Regions from separate parts of the Homo sapiens genome. Here regions 2 and 3 are each linked to region 1. Evidence: fine-mapped expression QTL. A gene starts in region 1. Each other region holds a variant in brackets. All regions are shown on one strand. Distances are from middle to middle.

Region 1 (2,500 bases):
TTGGGGGGCGCACCGCGGAGGGAGAAAGGAAATCTCACCCTGAGAATCTGGAGTGCAGGGAAGGGATGCTGCTCAAAGGTCTGTTTCTGGCTTTGGCGGGGGGCCACCTGAGACTGCCAGGGTTTGATGGTCTGAAGGTCACCCAGGGAACCAGCCCCATATGGGGTGCCGGAGCGCAGCTCCCAGGCCTGGTCGAAGCAATGCGACCTCGGAGAGGCCTGAGGACTAGGACGGGGTGAGGGGGACTCAGAGACGGCTGCCCCGGACCCCTCCTTCAAGCAGGTCCCACGGCCGCCCAGCGGACACGCGTCCGGGCTGTGCCCTGACCGTCTGCGGAGCGCACGGCCAGTGGCCCGGGCCGCTGAGTGTGTGAGCCCTGAAGGGCAGTGGACATGTGCGTACGTGGGTGATGTGTGCGGTAGGGGTGGTGGCGATCCTGCGTAGGGACCCACGTGAGGGGTGCACCGACTGGACGTGTGTGTTTCGAGGGGCCAAGGAAGCGGGTGTTGGTCCCAGTGTGCGTAAACGGACAACGACATCTGGGAGTTGGGCAGTGAGGAGAGAGAAGAGTGTGTCCAGGAGGAACCTGCCTGGAGGAGGCCTAGCGGTGTGTGTGCGCCTAGGTGTATACCGGGGCGTTGGTGACTTCGAGAGGCACCGGGCGGGATCGATCCTCTCTGCGTCCTGGACCTGGTGCTGGTGTGTTTCGGGGAAGTTACTGCTTATGAACCCCCCTTGGAGCGTGGCCTGGGGGCAGGAAGGCTTCCGCGCTGGGACCCCTGGGTCGCGATACCTCCCTCGGTAAGTGTATTGGCTAGGGGAGTGTTCCCGCAAATGGATCTACCCTGGGGAGTTGCCCGGCTCGTCTGGACTGCTTACGGGCGCACTGACGTTGTGGGGGGAATGTCCCCGAATTGGGGGCACGAGGTCGGGGGAATCGTCTCTGAGATCCGGGCTAGAAGCTACGAGCTTGGGCTCCGGGGGTGCATGCAGACGGCGCCTAGCCCCGCGCGGAACCGCCGGCGGGACCGGGGGTGGGGCTCGGAGGCCCGGGGGCGGGGCCGGCCGGGGGCGGGGGCGGGGGCGGGGCCGCGGCCGCTGCAGCAGCGCGGGCCGGGCCAGGGGGCGCCTCGCGCGGCAGCGACTCTGGCAGGCGCTGCAGTGAAGCTGGACCCGCAGGCGGGCGTGCGTGGAGCGGGGGCCGCGGCCGCGCCGCAGAGATGTGACTCGGGCCGAAGGCCAGCTGGAGCGTCGGCGCTGCGGGGCCGCGGGGGTCGGTAAGTGCGAGCTGCGCCGATGCAGTGGAGGACGCTGTGGGGACCCCAGAAACTTTTCCCGCCGTGGATTTGGGAGAATTGGGGGGTCCGCTTCTTGTGTTTTTCTAAGCGCCCCCCCAACCCAAGCCAGGGAGTTTATTGCTGGGGGAGATGTGGAATCTGGGCGAGGGGAACCACGGTGCGACGAGAGCAGAGCCGTAGAGGGGTGGGCGGGGGAGGGGAGGATCTGGGGACCTTTACGGGGGGAGGGAGACTGTGCCCGGACCAGGTAGAGATCCAAGTCTCCCAGGAGGGTGTGGGGGCGACCACAGGTGAAGGGCAGCTGGGAGGGTAAAGGAGCCCAGCCGTGTCCTAGTGACTCGTCATGTGTGAGGAGCTGCGGGCTGGTCCTGGGGCCGCGTTGGGGGCTGACTGTGGACAGGGCAGACGCAGCCGGGGGCACAAGGGCTGGACTTTGGGGGTGAACAGCCGCACCTGTCGCGGGGGCTGGGGGTCAAGCCCGCAGCCGGCTTGAGTGCGCATTACTCAGCAAGGGGAGGGGGGGACACGGCGGTGGGAGATGGCAGAGCTGAGACCTGGGCTGGGGACGAATGACGGGGAGGGGTGGGGAGGAGGGGGCGGCTGCATACAATGGCGGGGGGGGCAGTGGCGTTTCCCTTCCAGACAGGGGGCACTTGGACCTCTGGAAGAGGCGGCTAGGCTGGAGATAAGGACTAGACCTGTTCTCGGTCCCCTCTCCTTGGGGGACACAGGCTTCCAGCCCCACAAGGACCCCACACATCCCGGGGTCCCTAGCGCTTAGGCCGAAAAGGGAGCGCGCGGGAGGAGCCCGCACCCGCCTTGGCCCCGGGCAGCCGGTTGAACAGCCTGGGAAGGGGCCAACGACCTTGCCCCAGAAATCTCCCCCGTGCAGCGGGTTCACTCCTCCGTCCTTGCTCTGTCACACCCAGGCCTAGCCAGTCCTCCCTTTCCGTCCCCCGTTCGCTAAGGGGGCGGCTCCTTGGAGCGCGGACAAAGGCCCCTGGAGTGTGGCGGGCAGCGGCGTCCCCGCCTGGGGCCCCAGCCCACGCGCCACATTGGCCGCCCAACTGCACCAGGCCGGGGGGCACCTGAACAGAGCCCAGAAAGCCCTGGGGGACCCCGCAAAGACAAGAGAAGTGGGGGAGGGATCTGGCACAAAAACCCCGGCACTTCAGCCAAGGAACCTTCTTAATTCAGAAGTT
Region 2 (2,500 bases), 190 kb after region 1:
TTCACATGGCGCCTGCGAGCTGCTATGCCAACTGATTTACCCCTTCTTACTGTCCTTTCCCAAGTGAGAATTTAAAGTCTTTTAGTGAAAAGAAAAAAAAAATTAGCTGAGCATGGTAGCACACACCTATTGTCCCAGCTACTCAGGAGGCTGAGGCTGGAGGATCACTTGAGGGCAAGAGTTTGAGGCTGCAGTGAGCTATGATCTCACCGCACTCAAGCCTGGGCATCAGAGCAAGACCCTGTCTTAAAGAAAAAGTCAAGGAACAGCTTCAAATGCAGTTGGGCAAGGTGGCTGAGTGGTAATTAAGACTCTTCGGCACCTCCCCTCCCCACTCCGGGCAAAATTGAGCCTGCCTTGGCAACAGCCTAGAGCAGCGACAGTCACAGAAGCAGCAGAGCCGACGGCAAAGAGCCCAATCATCAGGGAGCAGGTTGTGCTGTGGGCGCCCAGGCCCGCGGGCTACAAGAGAAAAGCGCTTTGGCACAGGGCACGCGGGCTGGCACCTGCTGGGCACGGACTCGCAAACTGGCTGGCGACCACCTGCTCTGCCTTCATTTGTTCTAACAGACAATGCAGTTATGCCCCAAGTGGGAACCTGAGCCCATCCTGCTCTCCTTTTAACCTGGTCCTCGTCTGACACCTGGGAGAACGGGAGCCCCACTTTCTGCCTGAATCTACAAGACCAAGCTAAAATAAAACTCTTTCAGAGCTAACTAAAAGTCTCCTTGGAGAGAGGCCCTTTGACTACCTTTCACTGAAGTGGGAGAAACTGTTTTAAAAGTCAGACAAGCAGCACAATACCTAATTGGCTATTTCTCCATTCCATATCTTCTCAATTAGCAAAAAGCTCAATTCGCATGTGTTTTAAATGCCAAAGCCCATTAAAAGTGAAATCATTGGAGACGTGTCTGAGGGATGAGACACATGCCAGCTGATATATTCAAACACCGAGAAAAATACAAACACGTAGCTTGGGAACCAAATCAGGGCCTGATCCCCTCCCCTCGCCACAGAGGTTTTAAATAGAAAAGAGCTGCTTTTCCTATGAGAACTGTCATTTCCAGGAAGCTCT[C/T]GGGGTTTGGCATGGTTCCCAGCTCCACCACACCCAAACAAACAACTTCATAAAATACAGCTTGTGATTAAAATGAGGCTGGCACCTTCACGTGGCCTTAGAGGATGACTTTGGAAGCACGGTTGCTACCAGAGCTGCGATATGATTCTCAGAACGGCACAGGCATCAGGGTTTTCCAACAGCAAGAAGCCGCCCACCCCACTCAGTGGGGAGAAATCCACCAGGCCCTTCCTGGTCTGTGATGGGCCTGGATACCAAGCCTCATGCTCTTGGGGTACCAGACTTCAGAGGACTCCAGTATGGCTGTTGAGCTGAACTTCAAATTGCACCATTAAAACAAAGGATAGCCGGGCACGGTGGCTTATGCCTGTAATCCCAGTACTTTGGGAAGCTGAGGCGGGCGCATCATGAGGTCAGGAGATCGAGACCATCCTGGCTAACAGTGAAACCCCGTCTCTACTAGAAATACAAAAAATTAGCTAGGTGTGGTGGCACGCGCCTGTAGTCCCAGCTACTCGGAAGCCTGAGGCAGGAGAATCACTTGAATCTGGGAGGTGGAGGTTGCAGTCAGCTGAAATTGTGCCACTACACTCCAGTCTGGGCAACAGAGCAAGACTGTCTCAAAAAAAAAATAAAATAAAAGAAGGATAACATGTTCAGTTTCAGCTTGGTCCACCCATATGACCATGTTTTTATTTATTTATTTATTTTAGAGACAGGGTCTTGCTCTGCTGCCAGGGTTGGAGTGTAGTGGTGCAATCACAGCTCACTGCAGCCTCAAACTCCTGGGCTCAAGCGATCCTCCCACCTCAGCCTCCTGAGTAGTCCCAGCTACTCAGGGTGCACACCACCATGCCTGGCTAACTTTTAAAATTTTTTTAGAGATGGGGTTTTACTATGTTCCCCAGGCTGGTCTCAAACTCCTGGAATAAAGCAATCCTCCTTCCCCAGCCTCCCAAAGTGTTGGGATTACAGGCATGAGCCACCATGCCTGACCGATGTTTTTCTAATAAATGTGCACATATGGACAGACATTTTCAGTGAACATCGCTGGTATTGATGCCACGTGAAATGTTCTTCAGAAACATTCCATCTTTGCTATTCTTTCAGAATCACTATCACCATCAACCCCTCTCTCCACCAGAGAAAGAGACATAAATGTTAAATATAAATAGCTCCAAATTATATGGTTCTGGGCTTTATTTTTCTTGCAAGCTTGGGACTTCTGGGCTATGATCATTTATGCTGTCAGTGACCACCTCTGATTAAACCCAGCCTATTGCCTCGGTATGAAGACACGTAATTTTGAACCACATGTCAAGTGTTCTGTGGGTGTGGCTTGTCAAACACACATCATTGTTCTAAGAGGTCCCTGGACTAGAGGGCGGAGCCAGAACCAATGGTTTCAAGAAATCAGGGGAAGGC
Region 3 (2,844 bases), 140 kb after region 1:
AACTTCCTGGCAAAGCGTGAGAAGCAGAGGAGGAGGAAGTTAACATTCCTTGGGTCTGGAAGTATCATTCATTACTTCCCCTCTTCCGCCCAATGACAGGAGCAGGTCTGCTGTCCTTTCAATAGTTGAGGAAACTGAGGCTCACGGATTACTTAGGGCCATGCTGCAAGGAAGCAGTCTAGCAGGATTTTGAACTCCCGTGTGCCTGCCTTTCAAGCTTCTCCACTCTTATAAGTGAACAAGTTTGTTGTTGTTTTTGTTGTTTTTGAGACTCAGTCTCACTCTGTCACCCAGGTTGGACTGCAGTGATGAGATCTTGGCTCACTGCAAGCTCTGCCTCCCAGGTTCAAGCAAGTCTCCTGACTCAGCCTCCCAAGTAGCTGAAATTACAGGTGCCTGCAACCACACCTGGCTAATTTTGGTATTTTTAGTAGAGACGGGATTTCACCATGTTGCCCAGGCTGGTCTCGAACTCCTGGGTTCAAGCAATCCTCCCGCCTCGGCCTCTCTAAGTGGTGGGATTACAGGCATGAACCACCATGCCTGGCCACATATGAACAGTTTTAACAACCCACATTTTCTACATTGCTTTATCATTCATTATACAATTTAAACTTTAATGCTCTGTTCAAGCACCCTGGAGCATCTGACATCTAGACTGTTTTCATTTAGTCTCAGGAGTAGCTCATCTGTAGGATGTCAACAATGAAATATGAGTTGGCACAAGGATGCCTCATTAATCTCTAATATAATTAGAAATTTATCTGGTTCTTTCAAAGCATTTTATCACTGCTTACAGGCTGGAAACTGTTTCTAGCCCCCTTGTTACAAAATTATTTATGGTCAAATATTAGATATGCAACCTTCATGTAAAATCTTAATTACTGCCCTTTTAGCTGATTTTTGTGCCCTCTGAAAGGGTATAAATTAGAAGAATAATGGCCAAGTAAATTAGAATAAAGGTTGCACAATGGAATATACATGCACCAAGGTCTAGAAATGAATCCCCAGCTACAGATCCACTGTAGCCATTTCTCCTTATTCATTCTTATTTCAGAGGAGTGAAAAAAACAGACACAAGGGGAAGAAAAATAAAAACAACTTTAGTTCATCATTATGGCTCCTCTAGGACAGGACCATGTCTTCTTGTCCCCTCAGTGTGCCCTGGGGTCTGGCCTCATGATCAGCACACAGCAGGGCTTAATGAATGTTTGTTGAACAGAACCAAACATGGGCGACTCATCCTGCTTCATCCTGCTTGTAGATATTCTTTTTTTTTTTTTTTTTAGATGGAGTCTCGCTCTGTTGCCCAGGCTGGAGTGCAGTGGCACGATCTTGGCTCACTGCAACCTCTGCCTCTCGGATTCAAGCCATTCTCCTGCCTCAGCCTCCCGAGTAGCTGGGACTCAGGCACCTGCCACCACGCCCGGCTAATTTTTGTATTTTTAGTAGAGATGGGGTTTCACCATGTTGGCCAGGCTGGTCTCAAACTCCTGACTGCATGATCCACATGCCTCAGCCTCCCAAAGGGCTGGCATTACAGGCATGACCCACCGTGCCCGGCCAGATATTCTTTACATGTATGAAAACAAAGATTATTCCACTGTGCTCATTTCATTGTTTGATCATTATATTCCATCCTTTGTTCAATCGAATAAAAAGACACAGT[G/A]CACTCAATATACTTTGGTCAACAGCAAGATAGGAAAAAGTGATACAATTGCTGAAATGTGACTCGTGAGGTGCTCTTCCTCACTTAGCAGCAGAACAGAAGGCAGAGGGACAAAGCCATCTGACAATGGTGTGGCCAGGCTGAAGGTCTGCTCTGGGACCACTCTTCAACCCAGCCTCACTCCCCTTCCATTCAGCCACACCTTGCACCTGTTTAACACCACGGGATACCTACCAACTGTATCACACCACAATTTGATACAATTTCTGATGATGATCATAGCAGTAGTCAAAACACAGATGATGGGGGAAGGTCAGTTATGAGTAGTGGACAAGAATTAAATTGTCAGGAAAAGCCAAGTGAGCAAATGAAAAAACAGATAAGAATTAGAAGCCGTTTAAATTTGATAACTGAAGGCAAGTAAGCAGTCTGTTCTTCAGAAAATAGCTATGAATGAAAAAAAATCAGTATCTCTGGGAGCTATTTTGAGGACAGCCTCCAACTCCCATTTACTAGGAGGGATGGAAACCCAGGCTTCAGGATCATCTGGGCCTTGGTTGGAGATGTGTGCTGTCTGTTGCTTACTAGGTGACCTTGAGTAATGCTCAACTTCTCTGTGTCCCAGGGCCATCCTTGGTAAAAGGGAGGTGATGAAAAAGAAGATCTGGTTCAGAAGGTTATTGTAAGGGTGAAACAAGATGGTGCATAGGATGCCAGTGCTGACGCACAACGGGCAATAAATCAATGAGAGGGCTCCTCTTTTTTTTTTTGAGACAGGGTCTCACTCTGTCAACCAAGCTGGAGTGCAGTGGCGCCATCATGGTTCACTGCAGACTCAACTTCCAGGGTTCAAGTGATTCTCCCACCTCAGCCTCCCAAGTAACTGGAACCACAGGCATGTGCCACCATGCCCAGCTAATTTTCGTATTTTTTGTAGAGATGGGGTTTTGGCATGTTACCCAGGGTGGTCTCAAACTCCTAAGCTCCAGTGATCCACACGCCTCAGCCTCCCAAGGTGCTGGGATTATAGGCATGAGCCACCACACTGGGTCTTCTCTGACTTTTGATATAATTTCTGATGATTATCATACCAGTACTCAAACCACAGGTGACAGGAGAGCAATTACCTGGATTTAATCATCAGTACCTGAATCATTGACTTTATTTTACCAGCT

What was found. PIP is the estimated chance that this variant, and not a neighbour inherited with it, causes the effect.
Region 2: its variant is fine-mapped to the expression of GPRC5B in whole blood (TOPMed, PIP above 0.99). The same link has a PIP of 0.9 or more in blood mononuclear cells.
Region 3: its variant is fine-mapped to the expression of GPRC5B in whole blood (INTERVAL, PIP above 0.99).

Annotation. Positions count from the first base shown.
Region 1 is chr16:19,883,504-19,886,003 of GRCh38, reverse strand. It overlaps GPRC5B (G protein-coupled receptor class C group 5 member B), which reads left to right and starts at 1,156. Exons shown (of 4, transcript NM_016235.3): 1 at 1,156-1,277. RefSeq lists a silencer at 603-897 and an enhancer at 2,413-2,500.
Region 2 is chr16:19,695,104-19,697,603 of GRCh38, reverse strand. The region is part of intron 29 of VPS35L (VPS35 endosomal protein sorting factor like); the gene reads right to left. Among named protein-coding and RNA genes, the nearest start is that of KNOP1, 22 kb to the left of the region's middle. The variant C/T (reference allele first, on the strand shown) is at 1,076.
Region 3 is chr16:19,739,410-19,742,253 of GRCh38, reverse strand. All of the region lies in intron 4 of IQCK (IQ motif containing K), which reads right to left. Among named protein-coding and RNA genes, the nearest start is that of IQCK, 23 kb to the right of the region's middle. The variant G/A (reference allele first, on the strand shown) is at 1,670.